Homo sapiens: one gene and its partners. The protein of the gene in region 3 interacts with the protein of the main gene of each other region in a pairwise test. Each region holds a gene or a part of one and is shown on either strand. Other genes may lie near its edges.

The links.
Region 1: the proteins of TPR (region 3) and ZC3HC1 interact in a two-hybrid assay, tested with the Homo sapiens proteins (one study listed by BioGRID).
Region 2: the proteins of TPR (region 3) and NUP37 interact in a two-hybrid assay, tested with the Homo sapiens proteins (one study listed by IntAct).

What each region holds. Positions count from the first base shown.
Region 1 is NC_000007.14:130,017,792-130,020,417, reverse strand, and holds the end of ZC3HC1 (zinc finger C3HC-type protein 1), read left to right. Parts: intron 1-1,685; coding exon 1,686-1,754; 3' UTR 1,755-2,126; downstream 2,127-2,626. UniProt on the Homo sapiens protein: Required for proper positioning of a substantial amount of TPR at the nuclear basket (NB) through interaction with TPR.
Region 2 is NC_000012.12:102,075,115-102,082,157, reverse strand, and holds part of NUP37 (nucleoporin Nup37), read left to right. Parts: intron 1-2,941; coding exon of another isoform or gene 2,942-2,947; exon of another isoform or gene 2,948-3,096; intron 3,097-4,654; coding exon 4,655-4,836; intron 4,837-5,310; coding exon 5,311-5,361; intron 5,362-7,043. UniProt on the Homo sapiens protein: Component of the Nup107-160 subcomplex of the nuclear pore complex (NPC). The Nup107-160 subcomplex is required for the assembly of a functional NPC.
Region 3 is NC_000001.11:186,330,226-186,337,268, forward strand, and holds part of TPR (nucleoprotein TPR), read right to left. Parts: intron 6,932-7,043; coding exon 6,788-6,931; intron 6,470-6,787; coding exon 6,271-6,469; intron 5,319-6,270; coding exon 5,113-5,318; intron 4,905-5,112; coding exon 4,843-4,904; intron 4,309-4,842; coding exon 4,100-4,308; intron 3,170-4,099; coding exon 2,897-3,169; intron 2,119-2,896; coding exon 1,970-2,118; intron 1,357-1,969; coding exon 1,273-1,356; intron 1-1,272.

The DNA.
Region 1 (2,626 bases), on a different chromosome or scaffold from region 3:
TGTTGGTGTGCACCTGTAATCCCAGTACTCCAGAGGCTGAGGCAGGAGAATTGGGAGGTGGAGGTTGCAGTGAGCCGAGATCGCACTACTACACTCCAGCGTGGGCAACAGAGTGAGACTCCCTTTCAAAAAAAAAAAAAAAAGAAAAAAGTGTATACTATTTTTTCAACTCAGGTTTCTTTCAACTTTGTCACTCTATTAACTAAATTTCCCTCAGTCATTAGTAAGAGTTCAAACTTTTTCCTCCTGGAACTTATTGAAACATCCTCAAAGAGGATAGATTTTTAAAAAACTGTGAAAGTGGGCCGGGCGCAGTGGCTCACGCCTGTAATCCCAGCACTTTGGGAGGCCGAGGCAGGCAGATCATGAGGTCAGGAGATCAAGACCATCCTGGCCAACATGGTGAAACTCCATCTCTACTAAAAATACAAAAATTAGCTGGGCGTGGTGGCATATGCCTGTAATCCCAGCTACTCAGGAGGCTGAGGCAGGAGAATCGCTTGAACCAGGGAGTCAAGAGGTTGCAGTGAGCTGAAATGGCACCACAGCACTCCAGCCTGGCGACAGAGCGAGACCTGTCTCAAAAAAAAAAAAAAAAAAAAAAAAAACCTGTGAAAGCGTCATATGAGAAACTGGAGGTAACTGTGGATCATCTTGCTAGACATTCTTTGTACTCTCACTGAGACCCTTTCTGCGTGGAATACTTGCTCTTCATTGTGACTCTCAAAGGCAGACAGAACCAAGTGTTCTGATTCACCAAGAGCTTTTGTCTCCTAATGAATTACTTTGTCTCCCTTTACCACCATTTCTCAGAATCTCAGAGTACTTCATTGGCATGATCAGATGGCACTGCGATTCTTCCTATTATTAGCACTGCTGGCTAAAACATAAAAGCGGTGAAGACCAAGGCCAGAGCTTAAACTCATAGGGGTCATTCAACTCTGTTTTTATTAGTTGTCCTTGGTTTATACTGTTAACCTCAGCTAGGCATCACATTAAGTATAAGTACTTATTCACAATAAATAATGAACTAGGGCCAATTCAGCATCATGAATGAAAAACCAGTGCAGGCCGGGCGTGGTGGCTCACGCCTGTAATCCCAGCACTTTGGGAGGCCGAGGCAGGCGGATCACGAGGTCAGGAGATCAAGACCATCCTGGCTAACACGGTGAGACCCCCATCTCTACTAAAAATACAAAAAATTAGCCAGGAGTGGTGGCGGGTGCCTGTAGTCCCAGCTACTGGGTGAGGCAGGAGAATGGCGTGAACCCGGGAGGCAGAGCTTGCAGTGAGCCGAGATTGCGCCACTGCACTCCAGCCTGGGTGACAGAGTGAGACTCCGTCTCAAAAAAAAAAAAAAAAAGAAAAACCAGTGCAAAACATGTGCTGTACTAACGGCAAGTCAGAAGTGTCATCCTCAAGTACAAAGATGAGGACAGATACAGATGCCTGAAGGGAGGATATGAGCCGTGTCTTAGAGGCTCAGAGTGTGTTAACAGGAGTCTGACAGTAGAACGTTGGCCCCTCGATCTTTAGTCTGACTTTAGGTATACATTATGTATAGCATACTACAAAATGAATTTTTACTTAGTCCTAGACATATCCAGATCATTGTGGGACAAATGATCTATCCTTTGTCTCTATAAAAGAACGTAATCACTAATAATAAGCTTTTCTACCTACAGAGTCTCTCTGAGAAATCAAGGAAAGTATTCCGAATATTTCGGCAGTGGGAATCTCTGTGCTCATGCTGAAGATACTCCAGCGCCTTCCTGGAGATAGCTGGAATGAGAGTGACTTTTTGAAAAATTAAGGCTGAGTTCCTTTCGGTCAGCTGACACTAAGTTTTTCCTGTTCTGGGTTAATCATAAGGAGCCCCCTGCCATAGCAAAGGCAGTGAGTGTCAACTATCTGCATCTGGCTGAGAGAGACCCGTTTCCTTTCAGGGATGTGGACAGGGTAAGGGCAGCAAGCATGGTTCTGTTAAAGGAGTGTGGGATTAACAGACTAGAAGGAAGACTAAGGACCTGACCACCCATTTCAGCATCTTCAATGTGGAGCAGTGTTCTGAGGACTCTTCTATCCTAGGACTATGACAGTGTGTATTAATAAAATATTTGCTAAGATTCTCATTGTTGGAGAACTGTTTTCCCCCTTGCCCTGTGGGCCGGAGAAACTTCAGTGGAACATTCAACTTTTGATTTTCAGATTGGCTGCAAAGCCTAAAATTTGTGATTCCAGTCAAGGAGGTATAATCTTTCCTAAACCAAAAGCAAGATGATTTTCATTATGCCACCAGGAAATTTCCTGGTGTGTTATAGTGAATGGTCAACTGATAATTTTCTCCTTGCTTTGATAATAACAGAATAAAACAATGTAATGGGGAGGAAGGCACTTCAGAAGAGACCCCTCTCCATGTGCCATTGAATGCATGAGTCCCCCAGTTGGGCTTCCCCAAGACTCGTTGCTTTTGGGGGATCATCAGTTTTTGTGGTAGAGAAGGTGGACCCTGAACTGCCCACTGATAAAGTAACCATGACCTAGCAAAGGCTAGAAAGTGATTATTCTCTGATATGCCATGTTTTTCGTCACTGAGATTGTTTTGTTTTATACTTTTGTACTGAAG
Region 2 (7,043 bases), on a different chromosome or scaffold from region 3:
CTAAGCTCCCAAATCCAATAAGACTCAATAGGAGCTAGGATTTCAATGCATACTAATAACAGGACCAAGGATTCAGGATGTCACGGGATCAAAGAATTGGGACTGAGGACATCTCAGTCTCTGACCCTAAGAAAAAAGAGGTTAAAGAGTAGCTAAATGTGGCCGGGAGCAGTGGCTCATGCCTGTAATCCCAGCACCTTGGGAGGCCGAGACAGGTGGATCACTTGAGCTCAGTAGTTGGAGACCAGCCTGGGCAACATGGTGAAACCTCATCTCTCATCTCTACTAAAAATGCAAACATTAGCCAGGTGTGGTGCTCGACCGTAGTCCCAGCTACTCTGGAGGCTCAGGTGGGAGGATTGCTCATGCCAGGGAGGTTAAGGGTGCAGTGAGCCCTTCAGCCTGGGCAACAGAATGAGACTCTGTCTCAAAAAAAAAAAAATAGCTAAATGAAATAGGTTTAACAGCCAACATTTGTTGAATGCTTTCTATTTTCCAGGGACTGTACTAAGTACTTGACATGTATTCTCACTTAATCCCCACAAAACACTGCAGAGACAGTAGTAGTATTGTATTTTGTAGATGAGAAAACCAAAGCACCAAAAGTTCAAGCATTTTGCCCAAGGTCACACAGTGACAGATTTGAACTCAATCTGGTTCAAATACGACAATGTTCTGTGCCACTTAAAGTATTTCCACCTTGGAAATTCACAGTGCATAGTATTGTTTATACTTCTGAAAATTCCTAAAGGAAAAATTCCCCCTGTAGCATTTTTAGATTCAGCTACTCCCAAACTTACTTAACTTTTCTACCCTATCTGTTCTTATCACCCAAAAAAAGATTTGTCATAATTGAGCACAGTTATACAGACAGTAAATAACAAAAATCTTTTGTTAGAACTGAGTTTTAATTTGACTTTAACCTATAATAATAGCCAATGTTTTTTGAGTGCCTGCTTTGTGCCAAAACAGTTCTAAGTGCTTTATATTTACTAACTCATACCATTCTCCCAATAGTCCTATCAAGTAGATACTCTTATTAGCCCCTTCTTAGTGATAAGAACCCGAAACACAGAAAGGTAAGCCGTTTGCCCAAGATCTTACAGCTCCTGAAGGCAGAGCTGGGCCCCATCCAGGCAGTCTGGCCATAGAGGCTGCACACCTGCTTACCATGCTTCATTGTTCATTGCCCCTACTACCTTCGGACCAGGCTCAGGTAGACTTAGCCCTTCCGTAGTCCATAAGTTATACCTGAAATTCTCAAGATCTTTCAAGTCACTCTTAAAATATCAAATATTTTTACTAGGTCCTGGTGAATTTTCCTCGATCTCTTACCTTTTCTGATCCTTCCCCACTGCATACTATAGCACACTAGACCACTCACCAGTCTTCAGCAGCCTAGCCTTGTAGCAGGGAACATGTGTGCACTGTAGTTAAACAGACCTGGATTCAAATTCAGGCTCCATCATGGGCTAGGGTTGATACCTTGTACAAGTTACGTGAATCACTTTGAGCCTCAATCTCATCTGAAAAATGGGATTAACGATAGTAATTTCCTCATACAGTGGTTTAGGGGATTAAATAAAGCAGACATGTAAAGCTCTTACCCCAGTGTTATACTTGTTTTTGTTGTGTTTGTCATTGACCTCATTGTACTTATTGTTAGTAGCATTAGTATTATCTTAACATTTGCCTGTTCTTAAAGAATCATTTTTGTTTTCTGTTTGTTTTGTTTTTGAGGCAGGGTCTCACTCTGTGGCCCAGGCTGGATGCAGTGGGACAATCATAATTCACTGCAGTTTCTATTTCCCAGGCTCAAGTGATCCTCCTGCCTCAGCCTCCTGAGTATCTGGGACTACAAGTGCTTGCCACCTCGCCTGGCTAATAAGAATAATTTCAAATTCCACTTCTTCTATTAAGAATACTGTAATTCCAAACAAACATTGTCTATATTCTGAAATAATTCCTTTTTGTACTCTAGAGCATTTTGCCTTAAATTATTGTCTGATTTTTTCATAATTCTCTTTTCTAGATAGAAAGTTTCTTGAGATCAAGGATTATGTCCTTTATCTTTGACTTCTGTTGGAATTAATACAGTGTTTTGTGTATGTATGTATGTATACAGTAGATCTTCATTATTCACAGATTTTGTATTTTTGAATTTCCCTCCTCACTAAACTTTATTTGTAACCCCAAAATCAATGCTCATAGCACTTCTTTAGTCACAGACATACGCAGGGAGCACAGAACAACAAAAAGTTTGAGTCCGCTTATGTGCACTTGCTCACCTAAAATTGAACAAGGTGAACTCTGGCTTCTTATTTTAGCTTTCATACTGTAAATATGTGTCTTTTCCTCGTCAGTTTAGTGCCACATTTTTAACATTTTTGTACTTTTTGTGGGTAATTTTACTGTGTAAAATTTTACTGTGTAAAATCATCCCCAAGCACAGTAATGTAGTGCTGGCTAGTGTTCTAAGTGCAAGAAGGCTGTGATGTGCCTTATGAAGAAAATAAATGTGTTAGGTAAGCTTTGTTTAGGCATGAGTTATAGCACTGTTCATGGTGAGGTCTATATTAATGAATCAGTATATATTAAGTAAGATATCTTTAAAAAGAAGCACAATTTTCAAAAGCTACGTATTGATCAGTCATCAAAAAGGCTGGCAGGGAACCTAACTGTGTATTTCCCCAGTGGTTCAGTATTCACTAGTTGAGTGTTTGCAGCAACTTTATAATAACAAACTACCATGAATAATGAAATTGACTATCCATGTGTGTGTGTATAACATAGATGCTCAGTAAAAGCCTGTTAGATGAATAATAGAATAAATGATGTTTTATGTGTTTAGGAAAGTACAAAAGTACGTTCTTAAAGAACAGTCACATTTTAGCCATACAGTAAGTTTTTGAATCTGATATAATTATCCTCCATTTTACAGATATGAAAGATAACTCCAGGTCACTCAACAGGTTTAAATGGTACAGCTCAGGAGTTTTGATGCCAAATCCCACATTCTTGCCAATCTACCACTACTATTTACACCCTCAAGGATTTTTCAACTTAATAGAACCAGAATTAAAAGAACACTGCTTAAAAGTAAGGACTTTACAGAGATGTAGAGAGTGGAAAAGCATTTTATTCAGGCATCAACTACTCATGCACTTAGATACTCGTAGCAATCTCATACCTTATCTCCCACAGATGGGTATAGCAATGCCATGATTCCTTGAGATTAAGAAAAATTTTTTCACATTTTATTATTTTGTAAAATTGGAATTTATATTATAATTAATTTGTGCGTTTGATAAAGTATTTCACACATAAAACTTACCAGTGTATTAAACATCTTAACTCAATGGTATCTTAGAGTAAAGGAAATAGTGAAGTAATAGCTACTATTTTTTGAGTGGGTGGCTACTATTTGTCAAGCATTACATTGAGGTACTTTACCCACATTACTATTTAATCATCACAACAATCCTGCAGCCATTCTTATCCTCCCATCTCCATTTTAGAAATGAGAAAGCTGCCAGTCACATGGCAGTCACTCAGCTTATAAGTGAAGGAAGCGGCGTGTCTGTGCTCTTTAACTATGCTGCCCTGCCTTCCATTCTAGAAACAAACTTCAGTTGCATAAGTATGTGTAACACATAAATGTCTGTCTCTCTTGAGAGATACATACTTAGCTATTCTTTCTAGACAATATAACTAACATAACTTAAAAGTAACTTTTCCCAGAAGGAATTGTTAAATTGATCTCTTCTTCTTAGTGACGGCACATCATCACTTAAAATTCTACCAAATCTCAAAATCTTTTTTTTTTTTTTAAAGAAGGAATTTCGCTCTTGTTGCCCCGGCTAGAGTGCCGTGGCACAATCTTGGCTCACTGCAACCTCTGCCTCTCGGATTCAAGCAGTTCTGCCTCAGCCTCCCGAGTAGCTAGGATTACGCGCATGCCACCACAACCGGCTAATTTTTTTTTTTTTTTTAGTAGAGACGGGGTTTCACCATGTTGGCCAGGCTGATCTCGAACTCCTGACCTCAAGTGATCTGCCCGCCTCAGCCTCCCAAAGTGCTGGGATTACAAGCGTGAGCCACCACACCCGGCCAAATCTTGAATTGTTTATCTTGCCAGTTTTCTCTAAGGTTTTTTATATTCTCTAGAGATTTTTACATAGCCTCTTCCTTTACATTTGATCTTCCATTTGTAATATAGGTTGAGGATCCTTATCTGACATTCTTGGAACTAGAAGGGTTTCAGATTTTGGAATTTTTTGCATTTTGTAATATTTGCATATACATGAGATACCTTGGGAATGGGACCCAAGTCTAAACATGAAATTCATTTATGTTTCATGTATACCTTATACACATGACCTGATGATAATTTTATATAACTTTTTTTAATAATTTTGTGCATGAAACAAAGTTTGTGTTAAGTGCTTATATGTGGAATTTTTCACTTGTGGTATCATGTTAGCACTCAAAAAGTTTTAGTTTTTGGAGCATTGCAGATTTTCAGATGAGGAATGCTGAACCTGTATATTGCAAATGTTTACATTTTACCGTACAACAGTGAATCTCTGCTTACACTTCAGGTATAGTTAGTGAGATAAGTGATTGAGTTTCTTTTTATTTTTCTGTCTTACAGCTAATGGTTGCAGAGAAGAATGGAACAATCCGGTTTTATGATCTTTTGGCCCAACAGGCTATTTTATCTCTTGAATCAGAACAAGTGCCATTAATGTCAGCACACTGGTGCTTAAAAAACACCTTCAAAGTTGGAGCCGTTGCAGGAAATGATTGGTTAATTTGGGATATTACTCGGTCCAGGTACTTTCTTGATATGTTTGTCTATTACACACCAAAAAAAGGCAGTAACTGTTGCTAAATGATCCACTCATCCATCCTGTTATACCTGAGACTATGCTGTCAAGCGAAAGCAAGTCTTTCCTATAGAAGGCCAGAGCTATGGATTTTTATATAACATAAACTTGCTATGCAGATTTACTCTGGGAGTAACCCAGAAAGGACAGTGCAAAAGAGGAAATCTTGGATCTGTGCAATGTTGACTTATATTGGAAAATAAGAAAAACACTGACCCTGTTGCATGATGGTTCCCTGCAGTGGTTCTAAGTCATGTCTTTATTGTATTTCATCTGTTTTAACTGATTGCTTGTTTAGGATTTATTATAGTTTAAACACATTGGACATTCTGTCCTATAAAGAGAAAATACTGTTTAAACCTTAAGTTCACCCACTTGAGTTTAACACATAATTCATAAAATGCAAAATATTATCTTTTAGTTATCCTCAAAATAAGAGACCTGTTCACATGGATCGAGCCTGCTTATTCAGGTAATGTACCGTTTTTGTTGGAGCTGTGATTTGATCTTTTGACGTTGCTGTGCCACCACTGGGATACTTTTGTAGTTCTCTTCTTTGCACTGGATTTTTTTTTTCCCTTATTGTTTTATAAGTGGTTATTTTACTTTCCCGACTAAGTCATTGCCTTTGTCTTTTGGTCTAGACAAGGAGTTGATTTGTTTTCCAAATATTTTCTTTACACAGAAAAACATGTAACCACTCCACCACTACCACCCCTACAATTTGGAATATATTATGCTTCCTGATTGTTCTGTGCTGTTAAGGATGTAAATGTAGGGGAGCCCATGTTCATGTATATAAACTTTATTATTATGTGTTAAATGAAACTATGCTAGATAGTATATCTCTGCGACATGTTTTTGCTTTTCACTTAAATTAACATACATGTCTACCTTGTTCTTTTTCATAATACTCCATTGTATAGTGTGGTCCTTAAGCCATTATTTCTGCTTTTTAAGTAACAGCAAAACCAAATAAGAGACTAAAACCAGTGAAATTTTATTATATGCTATATTCCAATAAGTTGTAGAACTTAGGGATACCATTATTAAGAATAAAATACATTCGACTAAATGTAAGAATGCCATGGATCGTTAAGATACATCCTGACTTCAGAGATGTGTGAACAAATATACACCAATGAGCAAGTATCCATCAATTTTAAAATCAATGAGCTATGGTACTTATAAGTCTAGAGGAGGTAGTCTCAGGGCTTGTTGAGCAGCTCATCAATGTCATCAAGAGCTCAGACCCTTTTCATCCTTTCCCTCTGCTATTCTCAGTGTCAAGGATTGGGACTTGTTGCTTCATAGTTACAAGATGGCTGTGAGAGTTCCAGGCATAAGAGAAGTACTCCATTTGCCGAACAATTAAACAAAAAAAAAAAAGTAAGAGGAGAAGAAGGAACCCTCTCCTTTTATGGGAGATTGCTATGACTGCCTTAAACTAATTATGTCTCATCCCCTAGGGTAGGACACACTGTGCCCTGAACAAAGTTAGGCTTCACTTAGCATGGAAAAGGGGCAGAATGGCTGTCATATTTGATGCCTTATTTGTTTCTTCTACCACACTATTACCCCTTTGGTTGTGAAAAAAAGGATTGTATCAACCTTGTGTAACTTTGGAACTTAATGAAATGACACAAAATAAGCACTTCATAAAACTTAAAGTATGAGAAAATATTTATGGAATATTTTCCTGGAATTCCCGGTCTAATTGTAAAGACATATTAACAAATTTAGGATTATTAAAATCACTGGTTTTATACAAAAAGAAACCTGTTTCTGTCTAGGTGCTATGGCTCATACCTATAATCCCAGCACTTCAGGAGACCAAGGCAGGAGGATCACTTGAGGCCAGGAGTTTGAGACCTGCCTGGGCAAGATAGCAAGACCCCATTCCTACAAAAAACAAAAAATTAAAACTTACCTGGGCATCGTAGTACACACCTGTAGTCCCAGCTACTAGGGAGGCTGAGGTGGGAAGATCACTTGAGCCCAGGAATTTGAGGCTACAGTGAGTTTTGTTAGCACTTCTGCACTCCAGCCTGGGTGACAGAGCAAGACCCTGTCTCTTAAAAAAAAAGAAAAAGAAAAAGAAAAAGCCCGCTTCAGAAAAGCTTGTCATTATCCATAGGATACGATACTTAATTT
Region 3 (7,043 bases):
TTTCTAAATTCATATGGTTACAATAAAAAAATATAAGCCTTTGCTAAACTCCTCTAACTGGAACTATCGGGCAAGTTATCAGACTCCTATCTCTGATTTACAATCCAGACCACTACAACTCTGACTGTAGAGAGCACTGGCAAGGAACTGCAGACACCTTAAGCTAGTTTCAACCTGCTTAAAGAGGCTGCGCACAAACTGTCTTTGTGTCCTGTAGTTCACCTTTTGTTCACTCTTCACGTAAAGAGCCAAATTCCAGCTCATTTTCATGCTAAAACGCTGCCCCAAAGTGAACATGGGATGTATATTATATATATTTACCTACTGTTTATATGCTCAGTTCCCCTCATAAATATGTATAGCGTTTCCCCAAAACCTGCTGAATATGCATGACTCTATTGTGTAATAAGGACCCTGTGAGGCATAAAACCACACCTGTCCCTGCCCTGTGTGAAGACAGAACACCTTTGGTCCACGCTGGAGACTATTTCTTCCTCATGAGCAAAATGATATCACTAATAAAGCTCTCCTTTCTATTAAACACTATTTAGCCACCCTGGGGGTCTTCTTGATGACAATATGAATTCTCATTTTGTGGGACAGAAGGAAGAAAGGAAAGTAATAATATTCTGAGTGCCTAATATGTGGCAGGTACTACTTTAGGTATTTTACAATCCTAAAAATTATATTTTTTGACAAGTGAGACAATGCAGGGAATTAATGATATGCTTACAGTCACAAAGCTTCCTAGTGGTGGAGCTAGGAATGACACCTCATGCTTTGTAACTTCAGGGTCTATATTCTCTCCGCTAGTAAAACTGCTAGGGGAACCTCAATGAGAGATCAAAAAATGAAGAGGTATATAAATGCATTTCCTTTTATGGATTACTTTAATTCTGTAAGGGAAATAATACAGGGGAGTAAGAGAGAACCAGCAAATGGGGCACTATAAATTAACTCAAGATGCAACCAGCACTCTTGTATTTCATGTAATTAAAATAGGGAAAAATCTTGGCTCACAACTCTAAAAAATCTGGAAATCTGTGCTATATATGAACAAAAACATTTCTTTAATATAAGTTTAGAAGGCAGTACACTATACTCATAGGAGTAAAAGAAAGCAGACTCTGCAATGATTAATTCTAGTAGTATTTCATTACATATAATAAGAACAAGCTAAAAAAAAAAAGACCAAATAATGTTTCAATTTGTCAAAGCTAATTTCATTCACGAAAAGCAACGGTGTGGTACTTTAGGTATGTTTTTACTTACTTCTCCAATGGAATCTTGAGAATCCTGGTTGTATACCTGAGTCTCTACCTCTCCATCAGTACTTTCTTCTGCCATAACTTCTTCCTGTATCATAATACACTAATATATTAACCATATCAGTGTAGTAGATGAAGGGTTACCTGTTTTTGTTAGTTCTCTCATTTGAAAAAACCCTTCAAATCTATATTTTATGAAACTATAGAAAAATAAAAAAATTTTATTTAAAAATTATAATCACATTCCTCCTCAGTATACACAAAGTAAGGTTTATGAACATTAATACATGCTAATACAATTAATTTAGTAGCCTTAATGTTTGATTTGAAACCTGCTTCATTACAATTTAATCTTAACCACAAAAAGGAATATAATTTTGGCTAATCTTAGAAAAAGATAGCAGGTAACAGTTTATGTCCATGAGACTTAGAAACTTCGAGATGAAATTCAACTTATGTTTTTATGACTGAGCTTTTTTATTGAAATAGAAACAAATGCAATTAAAGATATGCAAGAATATAAAACACTGTTGGTAATAATACCTGGGTTGTCAGTGGAATCTTTGTAGAAAGTTCAATAAAAGTGTTTTCCAGATAATATATTTTGGCCCCAAAAGGTTAATTTTCTTTAGGCTGTAGCTGAAAAGAGTACCTTAACTCTACTGGTAAAAGTTAAAATACACAGAAAGAACTTTACGCACCTCAGTTCCTACAGGTGTGACACTTTTCAACTTCTTTGGAAGAGGCATTTCCACTGTATCATCAGAGACTTGGTCTGATGCTTCTATGGTGCTATCCTCTTCCTCTTCACGTGTACGCTTTGGCAAAGAAGAACTGGGGGTAGCCGAAACTTTGAAATTATATAAATCTTGAATTAGAGCATGATAATAACTCAATTTAGATAAAGATAGTTTACCCAATATGGTCACTTAACTAAAGGAGAACACAGTAAACATTTAATTGTACAGATTACTAAAATACAATCAATCAACTCCTAGATCAATGTCCATCAACATAATTTGTTTCTGCTAAGCTATGGGTAAACAAAGAGCAACTTATGCTCTGAGTCAATGTTTTTATACCAACCCAAGCTTTGCTTAATAAAGCCAGCCAATTTTTACAATATATCTGGTTCACTGAGATTGTATTACTATGTTGTTATCTACAAAGTTTACATGGGACCTTCTATAAAACTCAGGACTCCTTGAATAAGAAAAAATGTACACTGTATGTAAATCAGTATATAGTCTTATCTTAGGTGTCTTTTAGTCCTCAGGACTTCCGTTAAATTATATACAATGTTTTGCATTAATATGTAAGACCAGTAAAAAAAATAACTGGAGGGGGAGAATCATCTTAATGACAAACAACTGATTTAAAATAGTCATATTCAGTAGTAAACATGAAATAAAATGTTAGTAATATATTCATTCATTCTAATTCCTGGTAGAAAGCATGTATGCACAAAGAATACTTGTGATACGTATTATATCCAAGATATTATAATTGCGTAGGTCTATTCTAACTTCATTTGTACAAAGAATACTCAAGATATATATACTCAAGATACACTCAAGATCTTATAAATGCATAGGTCTACTCTGACTTCATTTTAAAATTAATTTTACCTGTGCCAAATACTGCTGTGGAAGTAGAAGGCCGCTCAACTGGTGAACTCTGAACAACCTCTACTATGTTTGAAGATAACTCTTGATTGGCAGGCTCAATCTGAGGATGACTCTGTTGAGTGGGTTGCACAAAAGCTGTAGCCTGTGTTTGTTGCTGAACAGTTAAAATAGGTTGAGAGATAGAAGGCTGGACATTAGGACTAGTAGAACGAACGGATCCACTTGTGCTTCCAAAAACTGGAACATGTTCCACAGGCCCTTCTGACTGCATAGCTGAAAAATAATTATAATGCTGAATATAAGCCTTCTACTTTTATCAAAGCTGAAATTATCCTTCCTATTCTGTGGTACATGTCACCTTTCACACAGATTTGGCACTTGGTAGACAAATACATTGTAGGTAAAGGTAATGTATTATGCATTTTTATATTCCCTATGTAATTGATATGGTAGCATGCAATAAAATGTTGCCTGAATTAAATAAATATCTGTAACTGATTTTGCATCTATTCATTTAAATTACTGTTGAATAAAATTAATGAAATTAAGCTCAAAGTAAAATTAGAATTTTTCATTAAGCATCATTTAGTTTTTAATTGATATAACAGATAGTAAATTTGATTAGTAATATATTTAGTTTATTGGATGTAGCTGAAATAAAACATTCTCTACTTTCACAGCACAGAAATACTTGAATAATTTACTGAATTCTAACATTTGTCAAGATAAGAATCTAAGGAAATATGCAGGTAGCAAAGTTTTACTGAACACCTACTGTGGAGTTAGGTAAAGGGATTAAACAATAAGAAGCTGAGATTTTTGCCCTTGAGGAGCTCAATGTAGTGGAGTAAAAAGCATGTATACCACAGAATAAAATACAAAGTTGTAATTGCTGTAATGAATAACAAGAGTGTCATGGGAAAAAATTGAAGAAAGCAATGAAATGGTCAGTTTCAGTGAGAAAGCAATGTTGGATTGAGCCAGTAATTCAGTATGATTTTCCAAAGTGGATTTCATATATTCTTTGTCATTACAAGTGAAAATTTTGGTCCTAGAAGTATGTCCTTCAAATATTAAACACCCATTTTTACAATGACGTGACTTCAGCTGTAGTGGATGCTTCATTTGTCTTTGAAATTACTGTCATCTTCTCATAATAAATCTAAATAAGCAGTCTCATCAGATCTGTATTATTTTACTAACCTTCCTGTGATTCCACTTGTGTAGTGGGCATCACTGTAGCTGTTGGGGTAGTAGTGGGATTTGTAACAGTTGCAGGTGTAACCATTGGGCGGATACTAGCCCTGGGTGTTGACTTATTTCCAGCCATAGCTGCAGCTGTCACTTTACTTGGAGTAGACACAACAGGAGTTGGCTTGATATTGGCTGTTGGTGGGTCTGATGTGCTGGCACTTATAGAGGAGAAAATGGAAGAATAATTAATAACAAATTATTATGCAAATACTTTTAAAAACACAGTGAGTATAGGTCTCCATTTTTTTGTTCACTAAATATTTCAGAGCCTTATTAAAGCTGTTTTGAATTTAAGCATTAAAAACTACACAGGGAATGCTCCAGAGTGGTGCATCCTGACAATGTAAAATGTATCTAGCTGTTGAATTGCTGAACCCAAGTCTCAGCCCAGCATTTTCTATCTGTCATCATGTAACATCACGGGGAAAATCAGTAGCAGCCTAACTTAGAAACCAACTGTAAACTAAAAGATGAGAGACGTTTTCTCTGTCACAAAGCTTCATCTGATAGGACTGAAAGTATGGTGAAAACAAGCTGGCAAATACATGATACAGTTCTGCAGAGAAAACAACTCTTTAGTGTATGTTTTTACAATAGAATACACAGATTTCTTTTTCCTAAACAGAAAGATCACTAGATATTCCCTGAGCTTTAAAAGAAAAATAACAGACTATGAAATAACTAAAACTCACATTCCTCTTTCACCAGAAGCTGGAGTTGTTTTCAATGTGATCTGTCTCTGCTGTTCAGGGACCTATAAAGAGAAAGCTCTTGATTGTTGTTCCTAGCCCACAAGAGTCCACTAAAAATGCCACAAAAAAATTGTCATTATTGTTAATTCTCTCCGCATATATTGAATTTTAGCCAAAATTCACTGACAAAGGCTCCTATATCACCAAGCACTTTCAAGTAAAATGTACAAAGAAAAACAATTTGTTACTTAAGCAGAATTAGCTAATCACCTTATTAGAAGGTTCTTGAGGCTCATCTCTCTGCTCAAGGTGTCTCTCTTGATGCTCCCTGAGTTCTCTTTCCAAGCGACTAATTCGACCTTCATATTGGGACTTTAGCGCAGTAATGCGAACATCCAATTCATCTTTCTGCTGATCTAAGGCTCCATTCCTTTGTTTAAGCTCCTCATTTTCTTTAGTTAGCTGATCTTTTACACCTAAAGAAGTAACCAGGCGATTATATTAATATTATAATCAAACATTTAAAACAGCATTTATGCACTTAATTGGCACATGGTCACATCAGATTCTACTACTATAACATCTACATTAGTTATGATACATCATACATCTCAATGAGCAAAGTTCTAAGTACATTCATGCTTTAACTTATTACTAGAATATAAAATATACTTACTCCAACATAAAAATTTACTTTTTCCTAACTAAAATCTCAAAAAGCTAAAGATCCTAGTTAACAGAAGCCCGTTTATATTTCAATGTATCATGCAATTCATTACTATGAATTGCAAAATTTTTATTTCATATAATCTACAGCACTGTTTAAAAATAATTCAAGAACTTTTAAAATCAAGTAAGTTGTTAGGACACTGTCTTAGAGATCATTTTAAAAAAATGCCTGTAACAAAATCCAACTGATTTGACATTTTATTTAACTACTCAGCAGACTGATAGGCAAGGCTGAATAAAGCCCTGAGCCTTGAAGAACTAGGTTCTTCATAAATTTGACATGATACTCTCCCTGAAAAGCTAGAGGGGTCCTCCACCAAACGAGGCACAAAAAAATCCCTGGGCTGGTAAAGATCTTTATGCAGTCTACATAAGGTTTCTAGACAGCACGGTCTGGGCTCAAAGGATCTCTGTCACAAGATAGAATTGTTATCCATGAAAGCAGAAGGATAGCAGTATTCCATTATCTACTGCCAGCCAACAATTGAGAAAAATTTCATCATATCAAGGATATCCTCATCACTTGAAAATTAGGATTGCTCTTTGTGTCCAACTAATTATTCCTAATATTTAAAGCACACATACACACACAAACACCCTTCATAAGTAGATACCTTTTATTTCTATTCCATTTAGTTTTAGGCCTGCAACACATAATCAACTTTCACTACCAAGTTCAAACTTTAAACAGATATTTACCAGCTAAGTGTGCAATTTTTGACTTTGCTGCTACAATAGCCTTTCTGGTTTTTTCTTCCTTTTCAGTTATCTGTTGTCGGAGCTGCTCCTCCTGTGTGGTTCTATCTTGAAGATCCTGACGAAGTCGTGAAAGTTCAGACTGAAGTTGCACAGTCTGTTCCTGGAGATTTCTTGCTTCTGTCTCTTTTTCAGATAATGTCTTTAAAGGAAAACAAAGTATTCACCATGGAATTCAATCATTTCAATATAAACTGTATGTGGTAGCAACTTAAAGTATAACTTATTAATTTGCTTTTTAAAAGATTAAATGGAAGTATAAGTATAAAAATGGTGGTCAGACCAACTAAATGCACACTTGAAGATGATTGGGTACTACTTACATACATGAGCCATTCAAAGTAAAAAGAATAAAATGTATCCATTCCCACATGGTAAGACAAAGTGTCAGTAGTTAACACATATTTCTTTAGGTGTATAACAGGAAAGAATTAGGAACAGACTGTTCTCACACTCATACCTTCTGCAGATTCTCTACTTGACTTTCAAGTGATTTTGATTTTGTTTCAGCTTGGTTGAGCGTTTCTTTGAGTTCCTGCATTTCCTGGACTGAAACATGCTGCTCCTGATGGTCTCCAGAGGACTGAGCCGATGTCTCCATAACCTAAGACAACAAACAGTAATAATACACTCACATATTTATATTCAGTAATTCCATTTCTGCAAGTTTGTCTAAGAAAATAATCACAGCTTTGCAAAGAAATTTTATCCCTGAA